Regions from separate parts of the Homo sapiens genome. Here region 2 is linked to region 1. A link means that fine-mapping ties the variant in region 1 to the plasma level of a protein whose gene starts in the linked region. Region 1 holds a variant in brackets. A gene starts in the other region. All regions are shown on their forward strands. Region 1 holds the start of GLIS3 (GLIS family zinc finger 3). Region 2 holds the start of UMOD (uromodulin).

The links. A credible set is the group of variants that fine-mapping cannot tell apart. PIP is the posterior inclusion probability: the model's chance that the variant is causal. Protein levels are from antibody-based Olink assays in UK Biobank. Linkage for the fine-mapping came from a reference panel and not from the study's own genotypes, which makes the PIPs less certain.
Region 2: UMOD starts here. The variant in region 1 is the best candidate, but not a certain one, in a credible set for the plasma level of the UMOD protein (UK Biobank, PIP 0.73).

Annotation. Positions count from the first base shown.
Region 1 is chr9:4,295,440-4,303,772 of GRCh38, forward strand. It overlaps GLIS3 (GLIS family zinc finger 3), which reads right to left and starts at 4,629. Exons shown (of 11, transcript NM_001042413.2): 1 at 3,982-4,629. GLIS3-AS2 (GLIS3 antisense RNA 2) reads left to right here and starts at 3,862. Exons shown (of 4, transcript NR_186824.1): 1 at 3,862-3,984. RefSeq lists an enhancer at 1,630-1,924. The variant G/C (reference allele first, on the strand shown) is at 3,516.
Region 2 is chr16:20,349,335-20,357,612 of GRCh38, forward strand. UMOD (uromodulin) reads right to left here and starts at 3,381. Exons shown (of 11, transcript NM_003361.4): 1 at 3,355-3,381; 2 at 1,316-1,505. The coding sequence starts at 1,403.

The sequences.
Region 1 (8,333 bases):
TCCATCATCTTTAAAGGGGGAGTCCAAATTATTTGACCTAATAAAAGGTTGTTGTGTTGAGCGAAAGAAGCCAGACCCAAGAGTGCATATTGAATTATTCCATTTACACAAGATTTTTTTTAAAAAAACCAGACAAAACTAATATATCTGTTAGAAACCAGGGCAACGGTTACCTTAGGCAGAGGTGGTAACTAGAATGGAGTGTGAGAGATGTTTCTGGTGTGTTGATAATGCTCTGTTTCTTGATCTGGAGACTAGTTATGTGGGTGTGTTCCACTTGCAAAAAAATGCATCGAGCTCAAGATAAGTGTGCTTTTCCGTAAGGATATTTCATCTCAATAGAAAATTTGGCTTTTGTGTCAACTCTGCCTAAAGTAAGTGGGAAACTACAAAAACTGGGGACTTGGACATCTTTTAATCAAACTATGTATCAATGTCATTTCAAAGGTTTTGTTATGTGTCATCTTCCTTGAATGAGAATGGCAACAAGTTTTTTTTTTATCACACAGATTTCCTATGTGCCTTTTTTCCCCAGTCCTGATAGTCTATGAACCAACCAAACTTAGGGAAAAGTAAAACAGTTAAGTCCTGTATTTCCACCTTATTTACAATATAATGCCCTCTACAGAAAATAATCACAGAAACACAGAAAATGACTTCTCCAGAGATGAGAAATGTGCATGTGACGCCACTCTGAGTTATCTCCTTCAAGAAGTATGTATTCTATAATCTGGGAGAAGAGTAAATTAACACTCCAACTCCAAAGATCAATAATTATAATATGAGAGAGACAACAGTGGAAAGAATGAATGTCCTCAGGCTTAATTTACTAGCAGGAAAGAACAGTCAGAGGAAAAAAAAAAAAAAAAAAGACCGAGAACACTGAGCTCTCTTCTGGAATGGCAGAAGGACCACTTTCTCCTGCATAAATGAAGGCAGGGCTAATACAAAACGTTTTCTGGGTATTATTTAACCTCTCCTACCCAGGCTATTTTAGCTCAGTAGGAAATTCACCCACTAGGTGGACCTTGGAGTTCATCCACCACCCCAATAAAGATTGCCTTTCTTATTTGAAGTGATGATCACTTCTTCCAAGCAAACCAACAAACCCTAGGTATTCAACCTCTGATAACCTGCCTACTAAGGAACTTCAGTGGAATCAGGGGATCAACGATGCTGTCCCCAAACTGGCCTAAGGTGAACCAAGGGGAGAAGTTAACAGCAGCACTTAAATTGATCTACTCATACTCAAGGATTACTGAGTCTTCTGGGCAAGAAAAGAAAGCAATTACAAACTACCAATAAGGACAGGTGTTTTGAAAATAGCGAAAAAAAAATGTCCCCTACACTTCCTTTCAAAGGTAGCCTCAGAGCTAGTCTGGCTGCGCAGATGACCAGTGAAAATAAATGAAAACTGCAGTACGGTTATAGATGATCCTTACACCTCAGCTTGTTCTCAATTGCAAAAAAAAAAAAAAAAAAAAAAAATGCATATAATCTAACACTCTCCTGTCTAAATTGCTTCAAACTTTCTCAGAACGACCTTCATCGTGGCGGATTCTTTTTCTGCAAACCTTTACAGGTTGCACCTGCTTCACACAGAACCAGCGGAAACAAACTAGGAGGAGATAAAAGAGAAGAAGTAGGAAGGTTTAAACCAACACAAGTCGATTTTGTACCCAAAAAAAAAAAAAAGTTTAGTCTAAAAAGGGAGGTCCAGTGAGGAACAAGACAGAGGGTGAAACAGAAGTCTGGCTTACTCCCAAGGCAGAAATCATGACTCATCAAAGCTTTCAGAGGGGACAGAACCAGACTTTGCATTTGTCTTGAGGTCATCTTCGAGCCAAGAAATGCTCTCTTAACCGGGACCTGAGAACTTTAAGGGTCTGCGACAACTGGCTGTGAGGCCTTGGGCAAAACCTCTAACGTCTCTGGGGCTCGGTTTCCTCATCAGGTGAAGCCAGGGTCCACTCTAGCTTTAATAGTCTCTCCTCGAGATTCCCGGCCCCATACTAAAGGGACCTGGTCCACTGGGGGGAGCTGCAGAACTTCCCTCTTCTCACAAACTCCAGGGCCCTGGGGCCCCAACTCTCGGGAGATGCTGAAGTCTTGGAGGAAGTTGGTTCTGCCGGCTCGGGGAGAGGGTGCAAGAGCAACCCTCTTTGTGAAACGGGGCCGCGACTCCACGAGTCCTGTCTCTACGGACCCTACTCCCTGTGATTCCGGAAGCACCTCCCTACCCCTTCCCCAGGTTTACATGCTCCAGAGATGAGGGCCAAGCGGATACCGGGGCAAACTAGCGTGGGGCTCAAGGAGGCACACAGAGCAGTGGTCTCAGTCCTCGAGACCACTCCTGCCAAGAGGAGGGCTGGAGAAGTCGGGAGAGGTGCCGGGAGCGGGGGAGAGGCGCGTAGGACAAGGCAGGAGGAGGGCGGCCCTTATCGGTTCCCTATAGGACTGGCTTCGCTGCCGGGGTCGGAGATTCCTCGGCGCGGAGCTAGGGGCGGGTCCGGAGGCGGAGGCGACAGCGCCCGGCGGGGTACGCGCGGCTGCGACCCCGTCACTCCCCCGCCGCCTCCGCCCCTAACCCTCGGCCCCGTGCGCGAGCGAGCGAGGGAGCGAACGCAGCGCAACAAAACAAACTAGTGCCGGCTTCCTGTTGTGCAACTCGCTCCTGAGTGAGTCGGGGGCCGAAAGGGTGCTGCGGCTGGGAAGCCCGGGCGCCGGGGACCTGCGCGCGCTGCCCGGCCTGGCCGGAGCCTGTAGCCCGGGGGCGCCACGGCCGGGCTCGCAGTCCCCCCACGCCGGCCCCCCGGTCCCCGCCGAGCCAGTGTCCTCACCCTGTGGTTTCCTTTCGCTTCTCGCCTCCCAAACACCTCCAGCAAGTCGGAGGGCGCGAACGCGGAGCCAGAAACCCTTCCCCAAAGTTTCTCCCGCCAGGTACCTAATTGAATCATCCATAGGATGACAAATCAGCCAGGGCCAAGATTTCCAGACACTTGAGTGACTTCCCGGTCCCCGAGGTGACTTGTCAGCTCCAGTGAGTAACTTGGAACTGTCGCTCGGGGCAAGGTGTGTGTCTAGGAGAGAGCCGGCGGCTCACTCACGCTTTCCAGAGAGCGACCCGGGCCGACTTCAAAATACACACAGGGTCATTTATAGGGACTGGAGCCGCGCGCAGGACAACGTCTCCGAGACTGAGACATTTTCCAAACAGTGCTGACATTTTGTCGGGCCCCATAAAAAATGTAAACGCGAGGTGACGAACCCGGCGGGGAGGGTTCGTGTCTGGCTGTGTCTGCGTCCTGGCGGCGTGGGAGGTTATAGTTCCAGACCTGGCGGCTGCGGATCGCCGGGCCGGTACCCGCGAGGAGTGTAGGTACCCTCAGCCCGACCACCTCCCGCAATCATGGGGACACCGGCTTGGATGAGACACAGGCGTGGAAAACAGCCTTCGTGAAACTCCACAAACACGTGGAACTTGAAAAGACAACTACAGCCCCGCGTGTGCGCGA[G/C]AGACCTCACGTCACCCCATCAGTTCCCACTTCGCCAAAGTTTCCCTTCAGTGGGGACTCCAGAGTGGTGCGCCCCATGCCCGTGCGTCCTGTAACGTGCCCTGATTGTGTACCCCTCTGCCCGCTCTACTTGAAATGAAAACACAAAAACTGTTCCGAATTAGCGCAACTTTAAAGCCCCGTTATCTGTCTTCTACACTGGGCGCTCTTAGGCCACTGACAGAAACATGGTTTGAACCCTAATTGTTGCTATCAGTCTCAGTCAGCGCAGGTCTCTCAGTGACCTGTGACGCCGGGAGTTGAGGTGCGCGTATCCTTAAACCCGCGCGAACGCCACCGGCTCAGCGTAGAAAACTATTTGTAATCCCTAGTTTGCGTCTCTGAGCTTTAACTCCCCCACACTCTCAAGCGCCCGGTTTCTCCTCGTCTCTCGCCTGCGAGCAAAGTTCCTATGGCATCCACTTACCAGGTAACCGGGATTTCCACAACAAAGCCCGGCGTGCGGGTCCCTTCCCCCGGCCGGCCAGCGCGAGTGACAGCGGGCGGCCGGCGCTGGCGAGGAGTAACTTGGGGCTCCAGCCCTTCAGAGCGCTCCGCGGGCTGTGCCTCCTTCGGAAATGAAAACCCCCATCCAAACGGGGGGACGGAGCGCGGAAACCCGGCCCAAGTGCCGTGTGTGCGCGCGCGTCTGCGAGGGCAGCGGCGGCAGGGGGAGGAGGAGGCAGAGGCGGGGTGGCTGGACCCTCGGCATCAGCTCATTCTCCCCTGCTACACACATACACACACAAATAATGTTTCTAAAAAGTTCAGTTGCGACTTTGTGCCTCGCCTGTCCTGTTCATCCTCGTCCTGGGCCGGGGAATGCTTCTGGGGGCCGACCCCGGGATGCTGGCTAATTGCTGCCGGCGGGTTCCGTCGCCGGTGTGACCCTGGACGGCGCGGACGGCGTACAGGGGGTCCCGGGAGGGGCAGTGGCCGCGGCACTCGCCGCCGGTGCCCGTGCGCGCCGCGCTCTGGGCTGCCCGGGCGGCGCAGTGTGGACGCGGCTGCAGGGAGAGGGGAAGGGGGAAGAGGGAGGGAGGAAGGCAGCCGGGCGAGGAGTGTGGATGTGTGTGCGGCCGCGAGGGCCGGCCTGTAGCCAGCTGCTTCCTGAGTGTGAGCGCCGGAGGGGGAGGGGGAAGAGTGGGGGCGGGCTCGCGGGTCACTAGGCTGGCCAATTCGAAGGCCGAGCTTGTGTCTCCCTCTTGACGCATTCACACACACACACACACACACACACACACACACACACACTCCCCGTGCGCCAGAAGTCGAGGAACTCCAGAACAGGGTAACAGCAGGGAGACACTTCGCCTTCTTCCTGGCCTTATTTGTTAAACTGACTTATTTTAACATGAAAAAGTGTTAGTGTTTAGACAGGATTTGATGTCAGGTCATAAAAAAATAAACAAACAACCAAAAAAATCCGGTAGTAATACGGAGAGAATAACACAGTGAAAAATGGCAAAAGGGTTGCTTTGAAATATCGGATCGGATGCACATGACAGCTTCGAAACTGGATAGGTGAAGCACTAAGGAAGGCTTTGGCATCCTTTCCAAGTATAGGCAGGGAAGAGAGGAAGGTGATGGAAGTGTTAGAAGGGTATAAAATTCTGAACACAGGCTGTTAAGAATGGAGGTATATTCCCTGCGTATGTTACGTCTATAAAGTGGCACTTTATCCTTATGAATTCAACATCCTCAGCCTCATACCCCACCTAAGCTCTGACTCGCCACCGCTTCTGCTTGTGTTGACCAGAGCCCTCAAAAGGTTGTTACAAGAAAGTCTGCTCCTAGTAGTTCATCACATGTATTGCCACAGATGCAAGGACTTCCATCTTGGGAATCTAGGTATGTAATGCACACAATATCCTCCAGGTAGGCCTTTCTGCAGTTGACAGTATTATTCACCATCATGAATGAAATGAGTGAGGATGCCACCAGACACTTAGAATTTCACAAGTCCTTATATTCTATTCTACTGTTACCACTCCAATATAAATTAGCAATCAGGTAGTAGATGCTTTGATCAAGACAGAAGTCCTCAAGGACACAAATGACTTACCCCAGAAAGCCAAAACTAAAAGACTATTGGCAGTTTTCATTTATCTAATTTCAGTGGGAATACTACTAGGCTTGGTCTGTATCCATGATATTAACATAACCAAAAGAAGCCTGGTTTCCACAGTACTTTTTCTTTTCTTTTCCTTCACCTTGGGACACAAACTCATCAGAATATTTGTCAGCAGAAGTAGGGGATGAAAAATAGTAAGAGGTCAGGATATGTCATTCTGTCAGTTTTCCAGTTTCTCTCTGTTCATCTCTTTTAAATACAAGTATTCAAGCCCAAGATGGCAATAGATGGGCTCAACCACACGTAAGAAAAGAAAATACTCATAAAATGAAGCATGCAGCAACATCACAAAAACAAAGAAACCAAGTGGTGGAAATTGCCATGACTATTCCATTGTGGCTAGTTATTGCAACATGCCTGACATTCACATAAAAACTCTTCCTCATTAACTCCAGCCTTAAGGAACAGAGCAAGATGGCAACACTAACCCTTCAATGCATCATGGGAACTTCTGTTCATCAGATTCTTGTGCTGTACAACTGCTTCCCAGGAGCAAGACAAGCCTGGGTGGAGACTGCAAAAAACCTTTCCAATGTCCCTCAAATATCATTTTAAATACAATGGTTTTGATGCATAGAATGGTATCCTAGGGGCTTGCAGAAGCTTCTAAAACTTCCCAAATGATGGGAACAGCTTAGCTGGAAGAGAAAAAAATATAGTGCTACACCCAACTTTAATCAATAGCTCATGGAAAAAAACACTGGGAAAGTTAGGAGTCATCAACCTGGAGATCCCCAAAATCTCTTCATTTATAAGAGCCCAAGAGTGGGAATGTCATTTTATTTAGGTGTGATTTTCATGAACCTCTAACATTCCTAAAATATTTACCACTGAAGAGGTATAGTGCTTTGGTTGAATTTTTTTCTTTTTTTTTTTTTCTGGCCAAGAATGTAGATCTGCAATGTTCTTATATTCCATGGGTTATAGTAAAAATGCAGTTGTTCTTGTACCAGTACAACCCTGGAATGACTCAGAATGAGATCTGTACCTCTTCTGGGCTGAATTGGTCAGCAGGGGTGAGGGAGGGTGGTAATGAGAGACAGTGAGAAAGGAAATCATGTAGTTCCAAAATGATACTCTCCCTTACCCATGAGCTCTCCATCGTGCTTAGGAATCATACTCTGGCAGCCCTTCAGCCAGATAGGTGGGAACTGCAGCCCAGTCAGTATCTTCCCTCTCTAGAGACCAGTGTTGTATGTGCCTCAACCGCTGACTCAGGGCAGCTGACTCAGCAGACAGGCCCCTGCTGCCAGCTCCAGTCCAGTTCTCATTCATCAGAGAAATATTCAGTGAGTACACACTCTGTCCAAGTATTGGGACTAAAGGAATTAACACTTGTAGGCATTGTATATGGGAGGATATTACAGAAAACTTTTTGCCCAGTGTCTTAGTTGTAGCAAACCCTCAAGAAATGGGGACTCTTTGCATATATTACCTCATCTAATTCTCAAATCAAATGTATGATGTGGCTATGAATAATCTCCTACTTAGAAGCAAAGAAGTTGAAGCTCAGTAAACAGTTAAAGAGAGTCAGAGACAGAGCCAAGTATGCCAGTTTAGAAGCCCCAAGTTCAATCAACATTACTGTACTACAGAATAATTGTGCATGCTCTTTGAATGTGTATAAAACATATTGCAGGTGTATAAAGTGCAAAGCATCTTGTGGTCAGTGTTAGATGAGCACAATGAAGTTTGTAGGGAGTGTGGAGGAGGCAGGAATAATTTCCTGCAATGTGACATGGAGTAGCTTGGCTGTTTGAGCTGGACTTCAAAGAATGAGTAGAGAAGTGATAAGCAAAGGAGACCATTTCAAGTATAGGAATCAGCATCAAAAGGGGCACAGAAGGCATAAGTCCTGCATAGCAAGCAGCTCACTCAAAGCTAGAGTACAAAATAGGAACATCCACTGTCTCACAGCAATGAAACTCTCCCGAAGGAACATCCTGACAGCAAAACTTCAGAACTGCTATTTGAGTCACCCTGAGTGCTCTGACAGTAAACCACTTACAAACTTGCAAAGAACTATGATCAGATTCCTCCTCCCACAAAGTGTCCGTGAAAAGAAACAAATTTGAACCCCAAAATACAGATAAGTTGAGCTAATAGCACCAGTGATAGTATGCCTAGCTATTAAAACACAGACACACACACACACACACACACGAGCTGGCAACAGTCCAGTTACGTAGAAATGCAGTGGAAAAAGTTAGTGTTTGCCAACTTTAAGGGGGGAACTAAATGTGTAAAATGGAAAATTTCCATTTTACTTTCCTGAGTAGTACAAATAGTGGAATGCAGCAAATTTCACATTATGTTATCAGTGTGTGATATACTAAGAAAACTTAAGCTGATTTTTCTACTAATTTGTCACAAGTATGTTCAGCCCAAACTCTTCGGCTCACATACATGTCAGTGATGTAATTTTTTAAAAAATTCTTATTTACACATATCGCATTCACAACATCATACCTCTTTTCCTTTCTAAAGTCAAAACTGTAAATCAGAGTCTAAAATGTGTCAGACCAAATGCAACTGACCAAAATTTCAAATATTTCACTCCATACAATATCTCTCAATCTTGTCTAATTGGTGAAATGTTTCTTCCTTTTTTATACAAACCAAGCTGAGATGTATCTAAAATTCAG
Region 2 (8,278 bases), not on the chromosome of region 1:
CAAAACAAGGAAAGAAGCAAAGAAACAAAACTCCTCTGATGATGTCAAGCCTCCACCGTTCATTCTGTGTTTATTTCATTGTATTTTTTAACTTTATTTATTTTTTTGGAGAGGGGTCTTGCTCTGTCGCCCAGGCTGGAGTGCAGTAGTGCGATCATAGCTCACCATAGCCTCCAATTCCTGGGTTCAAGCGTTCTACTCCCTGAGTTCAAGCCACCACCGCACCCTGCCTCAGCTTCCCAAAAAGTTGGGACCACAGGCACGTGCAATCGCGCCCAGCTCCACCATTCATTTTTTGTGTTAAGCATTGCTTTCAAGCTGTCTTCTTTTAAAATAGCCACATTCAGAAAAGTAATGCGCAGAATTCCTATACTTTGGTAGGATTTACGGTGAACCTGTTGCCCCTCCCTTTCTTTGCACATTTTATGTTTTCTGCTTCCCTGGCTGGTGAAATCTTCATCAGGACCCTGCTCAGTGTCGCCTCCTCTCTGCGGAGTCCTCCAACTCCACCTGGCTGGGCAGTTGTACTTTGTTCCTCCGTAATAAAAATAACCATTAAAAAAAAAAAGAAGCTGTTGTTTATTAAGCAATTACTATATGCCAGGCAATAGGATGTGCACTTTTCACTCACTATCTTGTTGAATACTTCCCAAGGGCCTCGTGAGGTCAGTTTTTTATGTATCCTTATTTTAAAGATGAGGAGACTGAGGTTCAGAGGGATTAAGCCCCTTACTCCTTTGGTAAGAAGTAGAACCAGGATAAAAACGCAGATGGCAGGACCACAAAATATGTGCTTTTAACCAGGACACCGCAATAGTATTCATCGTGCCCCAACGTACTCCAGGGAGAAAATGAAAGTGGGGTGACAGCAAATCTCAACCCAATGGAATGACCTCTTAAAGTTGAAAGGGAAGGTGTTTGGATCCTCCTGCATGGGTTCAAATCTCCTATGTGATAGAGTATGTTTCTGACTTCCAATAAAGGGCCTGCAGGCCTTAGAGATGTTCTAGCCCCTTGCTTTTCAATGTGTACTCCAGGGACCCCAGTATGAGCATCGCCTGGAAGCTTGTTAAAAATTCAGCATCTCAGGTCCTACTGCAGATCTGCTGAACCAGAATATGCACTTTAGCAAAATTTCTAAGTCAGTCCTGTGCATATTGAGTCTAAGAAATGGACTTAGAATGAAGACAATGCAAGTCTCAAGTGCGATAGGAGGATTGAGATCACCTCTGACAGGTGCTACATTGCTTCCCCCACACATTCACACATACACGTGCATACACACATATACAACGCACACACACTTTTCACTTACTTGCTTCTGAGGTGTCAGTGGCTGCAGTTGTGATGAACCAAGAGGCCACCACCACCATCAGCATCCAAGTCAGAGATGGCTGCCCCATCCTTTCTGCTCTTCCCGCTACTTCAGGTCTAGATAGCACCTGCCCAAAGGAAAGACGGGTTGGCCCTTTGAATTTTTCTCTCTGTCTCTGATGTCTGGTGTCCTGTGAACAGAGATGGATGGGACAAATGCATGATCTAACTCTCCTCCCCACAGCTGGAAGGAGTGCTTTGATTGTATAGTATACAACTCCAGGAGGTGTCACTTATATGGACTAAAAAATTGCATAACACTGCAGCCCTTGTTTTGCTGGGACTTTACCCCTTGTACTCCCCCTCCTTACCTCACCAACATCCCAGTCTTGGCTCCCCAATTCTCAGCACATTGCACATTTTGAAGAACTCAGTCATTTGGAGCAGGAAGTAGCCAGATGGAATAGTGTTCTGGACTCACCACTTTACTGAAGGCAGCTTTGGATTTTAACTGATCCTCTGCCTGGAAACTTTCAATTTGCCTGGATCACTTATTCATTCAACAAACATCTATTGAGTAGCTACATTGTGCCAAACAGGGAGCTAGTCACCATGGAGAACAATGAACATGGCAGTCTGCTCCTTCATGCAACTCACATATCGTAAAGAAGTGGCTTGAGACGAGCAACTTGAGAGGTAATTAACCTTCACAATGCATTTAAATGTTTCTGGAGTGGTCACTTACTATTTCTTCCAATTGGAAAAATAGTCCAGGGTGGATGCCAGTATTACCCCAGTGTTTATAGCAGCAAAATAGGGTGGCATGTTGGTTAAGTATGTAGGAGCTGCAGCCTGCACCTGAGGTTCAAATCCCTGCTTTACTGATCACTAACACTGTGATGTGGGTATTTCAGTTTACTAAGTCTCCGTTTTTGTCTGTGAAATGGAGATTGTTGCTTTCACAAACTGAATATCTATGATGGGCCAGGCTCAGTTCAAAGACATTCATGTGCTCAAAGGCATTGGGTCCTAGAGCAACGTTTTCCAGATCTTCGTGACCATGATGTACTAAAAGAAAAACATTTTATGTTGCCAGGTGCAGTGGCTCATGCCTGTAATCCCAACACTTTGGGAGACTGAGGGGGTGGATCACAAGGTCAGGAGTTTGAGACCAGCCTGGCCAGCATGGTGAAACCCCATCTCTAATAAAAATACAAAAATTAGCCGGGCATGGTGGTGGGCGCCTGTAATCCCAGCTACTCGGGAGGCTGAGACAGGAGGATTGCTTGAACCTGGGAGGCAGAGGTTGCAGTGAGCTGAGATCGTGCCACTGCACTCCTGCCTGGGTGACAGAGAGTCCATCCCCCCCCCCCAAAAAAAAAAAGACAGAAAGAAAGAAAAACATTTTATGTCATGATCTAGTGCAGTCGCTTCTGCATGTATGTGCACACACACATAAAATTTTATAAGACAATTGATATCCTTACTACATTAAGTGATTTAATTCTTACCACAACCCTATGAGATAAGTATTATCCTAGTTTGCAGATGAGAAAACAGGGGGACAAAGAGGCTAACTGCTTGCCTCAAATTTGTATTGCTTACTGACATATTCTATTATATTTAATTAAAAGAAGTCCCTGGATATAACCCACAAAAGGAATGATTTTATGACCCGCTAATAAGATGCGACCTAAAACACTGCATATTGTCACTGGGATTAACTAAGATGACATATGTCGAGCAGGGCCCAGCACATAGCAAGTTGTTCATTGTTGTAACCCTGGTACCTGGCACATAATAGGTGCATAACTAATATTCATGGAATAAGTCAAAAAATAGTAGTCATTGTTACTAGGACAGAGAGGATCAAAGAGAGGAAAACTAACTTACTAAAGATCATGAAGCCAATAATTGGCAGAATAATGACTCAAATCCAGGTCTGACCCCAGTGTCCAAGGTCTTAATTTCCTCTCCTACCTCCCTCAAATAGGATGGGGAGAAGCTGGGCTAGGAGAAGACAGCTACAGATAGCCTTACCTGAAGCCAGAAAGGTAGAGTTAGTCTGGTCATGATGTGCCTCATACTTATATATACACATTTGCCCCAGGCTGGCAATCTCTCCTCCAATTAGTCTCTAGTTCTGTTTTTTGATATTGTTTTCTTGGGGGTGGAATATTTTTTCCTCCTGGCATAATGTTTGCCTTGTCCAAGCTGTGAGGTTGTTGTTGTTCTTTTTCCTAATAGCTAGAGACCCCAAATGATTGACATTGGGGGGTCACACCTGTGCCCGGAAATACAAGGTCACTGTTTCGCACCTTCTAACAGCAAGAGATTCCATAGTTAGAAATTAACTGGGAAAGCAGTGCCAAGGTGCTGGGCTTCTTCTTGGTCACTGACAAGGGCAGGGTGGGATCAAGGAGCCAGGCAGAAGCCAGTATCTGAAGCCAGGCTGCATAAGGACAAAAGGGATATTCACTGCCCCAGATGGGAGGTGCACCTGTCTTGGAGAGGGCACCCTTCTGAAACACCCATTCTCATGAGATCAGCCTTAGAATCCAGACACAAGCAAGAGAGGAGCTGAGAATGGCTGAAAGTCAGAACCAGAAGGTAGTTCAGACATCACTGGACCTGACCCACTCTGTACAACAAAGAATCAGGTCTGATGACTGGGAGGTCCCTTTGGAGGCGAAATAAATTTGCACTTAAATAGACTGACTTTGGAGTCAGTCTGCCTCCTTTATCTGGTGTTTATTGTGTGGCAGTGGGCTCATTTCTTAACCTTCCTGAGGTCCAGAGGTCAATTTCCTTGTCTATAAAATGAGAATACCCATCTCCCACAGTAGTAATAGTAACCAAAGGAGATGATGCAAGTAAAGTCATATAGTAATGATTATATTCATGGAAGTAGTGAAAATTCTGCTTTGCTGTTGTGCAATCACTGAGGTAGAAAATGACAGAGCCTGAGTTAAAACCATGTCTTCAGACCCAGTTCAACATACATGACATTCCAAAAGTCAGTGTGAGAGTGGCTGTCATCATGTTGAGAAAAATAAAATATGTGTGAACTTGGGCTGAGCAGGAAAATATCACCATGATCACTGCATTGATCTTTTTTTTTTTTATACTTTAAGTTTTAGGGTACAAGTGCACAACGTGCAGGTTTGTTACATATGTATACATGTGCCATGTTGATGTGCTGCACCCATTAACTTGTCATTTACATTAGGTATAACTCCTAATGCTATCCCTCCCCGCTCCCCGCATCCCACAATAGGCCCCTGGGTGTGATGTTCCCCTTCCTGTGTCCAAGTGCTCTCATTGTTCAATTCCCACCTGTGAGTGAGAACATGCGGTGTTTGGTTTTTTGTCCTTGCGATAGTTTGCTGAGAATGATGGTTTCCATCTTCATCCATGTCCCTACAAAGGACATGAACTCATATTTTTTATGGCTGCATAGTATTCCACGGTGTATATGTGCCACATTTTCTTAATCCAGTCTATCATTGATGGACATTTGAGTTGGTTCCAAGTCTTTGCTATTGTGAATTGCTCTTTTCAGGACATTTCTCCATCCTGTCCCACTCAGTGGTAGGGTAACCACTGGCACTGGTGTTGTCATCTCCTCAGGATTATGTCCAAGGAGTGGAAATTCTGGGTCAAAGAGGTAGCACAGCTGTAGGAATATTGACTCCTCTTCCCAAACAGCACCCCAGAGAATTATTATAAATTGGTTTACAATCCCACCAACACTACTCACCAGTTCTGAGCATTGGTAACTTGCTTTCATCTTTGCCAAAAGGATAAGTGGAAACGATCTCATTATTGTTCATTTTTGCAATTCTTTGATGAAAAGGGAAGTTATCTCTTCATTTATTTACTTTTTTTTTTCTGAACTAGTCGTTTTTATCCTATACCTTTTTCATGAGGCCTTGTCTAAACCTTATTATGGGTGTCTTCAAAGGATTAAAGACAGTGACCCCAGGTGGCTTCTGGAGTTTTCTTGACAAAGACTTGGGCAGGAAAATGGGGAGTTTGGGTTGGAATCTATTCATAAGTGTAATCACCATGCTTTCTAGTTTCTGTATTTGGTGCTTGTACATTTTGGGGCCTTACTGATCATGGAGGGACTGCCCCTCCCAGGGCTCAATAATTACTAGAGATCAAAAACGACTTATCTGTGAATGTGCCTTTCCGACTGCAAATCAATCAATCCAGACCACATACCCCCAACCCTTGGCCTCCTTTTTGGGGCTTTTACACTTAGGGTCACTACTTGCTGCTTTAGATCACCCCAAGGGACCAGGTACCAGACAACTAGAGACAACTCCTATGGCCCAGAGGTCTCTGAAATTATTCAAACTAAGCCAATCCTAAATCTGCTTACCTTGCCTCTCCCATTCCTTCCTGCAGAAACTACAATAAAGGCTCTTTCCTGCCTTTTCCCTTGCTCTCTTTGCTTCCTGACCGACCCTGGTACTTCCCAGCAGCTCTTCCTCTCCCTTCAGCCCCTCTGCCCAGTGTGGTGTGTCCCCTTCTCTTGGGATCTGTGAGTATAACAAGTTGTCAGTGGCCATAATTTCCTGCTCTGTTGCTCATCAAGTTCACCAAAGACATCCATGTTACCAAATTCAATCAATATTTTTCTCTTTATCTTACCTCTAGGACAGTGCACAATAAATATTTGTTTTTGAACGAACCTTAATCTCTCAGCACTTCGCTCTTGAAACACTCTTCTTTCTTTCTTTCTTTTTCTTCTTCTTTTTTTTTTTTTTAATGGAGTCTTGCTCTGTCACCCAGGTTGGAGTGCAGTGGCTCAGTCTTGGCTCACTGCAACCTCCACCTCCCAAGTTCAAGTGATTCTCTTGAATCCTTGAATCCTCAGCCTCCCGAGTAGCTGGGATTACAGGTGCATACCACCATGCCCGGCTAATTTGTGTTTTTTTTGTACACATTGGCCAGGCTGGTCTCGAACTCCTGACCTCAGGTAATCTGCCTGCCTCGGCCTCCCAAAGTGCTGGGATTACAGACATGAGCCACCACAACCAGCCTGAAACACTTTTCTCTCTTAACTTTCAAACATGGGTAGGAGACTTGATCTTAATAATGCTGAGAACAATCACCCACTGAGCACTTCTCTTGGGTCAGACACTGTGCTCAGTGCTTTTGCCTCCATTGTCTCAAACAATGAAACACAACAACCCACGTCACAGGGAAGAAGACAAGTTCAGAGAGGTGGAGTAACTCCCCCAAGATTACACAGCTAGCGAGTGTTAAATCCAGACTAAAACTCAAATCTCACTCAGATTTACCTGCATTCCTTGGGTTACAGAACATTCCATGCTCAGCCATGACAGGGTCTTAGAAGGATAAGTGGTTTTAGGTAGTTTTGGAAAGAGTGAAACTAAAGGGTGGAGAGTTTTGAAAAATTGATCAAACAGAACACAAAAACTTAGAATGAGAGGTTGGTGTGTGTCAGAAAGCGGCAAAAAATGAGCCAAGGGAGAAGATCCCCCAAAAGAGGGGTATTACCTGTCCCACCTACCTCTCTGAGCACACACCTCCTGAGGCTCCAGTTACGCCTGGGGGACCTGGAGGTGGCACACCCATTCTCTGGCTCGTGGCCTGTCAGGGGCTCTATGCCACATGATCTAGTCTAGGCAGCCCCCCGTAACCCTCCTTCAACTGGCAGCCACATGACCTCAAGGCCGAGGCAGGTGAGCCTTACACCGTGTCCTGAATACTAACACCTGCTCCTGTTGGGGAATTCGGCTCAGGTGAGTTCCAGAGCCGCAGGCTGTTCCCTGCTTCCTCTGGTTGTGGACAGGCCAGGTTCAGGGTGAGGGGCATGGGAGCTGTCTCTGGAGGTATGAGAAAGCACAAATAGCCTTTGCCTTACATGACAGGTGAGGAGTGGAGAGACCCAGGTGGTTTCTAGAGACCTCAATTTCTAAAAGAATGCTGCCCTTCTTTTCTCAAGAGAAGGCCTGGCTGAAATGAATGACACAAATCCATGAGTTAAATCTGTGGTAGGCTGAATAATGACCCCCAAATACGTTCACCTCTGAATCCCCAAACCTGTGTGTGTTGCCTTTTATGGCAAAAGGGACTGTGCAGTGTGATTACAGATCCTGAGATGGAGAGGTTGTCTGGGCAGGCTGGATGCAATCACAGTGGTGCCTATAAAAGTGATGCAGGAGGAGTCAGAGGAAGTAGGTGTAAGGATGAAATGAAAAGTCAGAGTGATTCTAGGACAGAACCATAAACCAAGGAATGCAGGGGCCTCCCAGAAGCTAGAAAAGGCATAGCAGGGAATTCATCCAAAAGGGACTAACTCGTGAATTTAGTCCAGTGGAATTGATTTCTAATTTCTAGCCTCCAGAACTCTAAGAGAGTAAGTTTGTGTTGTTTTAAGCCACTTAAGTGTTAATTTGTCAGATCAAAAATAGGGAACGAATACAGATTCCAGTTTGGATCTGGGGACAACACTGTCAGCACCTCTGCCTTTTGGGATGACTATGAAATTATGTATTTCTCACCTAAAATGGAATATTTGATTGATCCACGAGCATTTATTGAGCATCTACTATGTGTCAAGCAGAGTTCTAGGCAAAGGGAATACGGCAAGAAAAAAAACAATAGATATATCTACTTTCGTGGAGCTTACATATTAATTGGAGAATCAGGCAATATATCATTGCACAACAAAATAAGATGCTTTCAATTTTTAGTCTCCAGGAATGCCTTTTGGAGGTGGTGACAGGTGAGCTGAGATTTGAACCAAGAAAAGAACATGGCTATGTGAGGAACTGGGGGAAATGTATTTTGAAGGGAGTGCATTTAGGCAGAGGGAACATGAGGAGAGAGTGAATTTGGCTTGTTCATAGAGTAGACAGGAAGTGTGGCTGGGGCCTAGAATGTGAGGGGGAGAGGGAGAGGAGGAGATCTGTGGGGCCAGACCTTT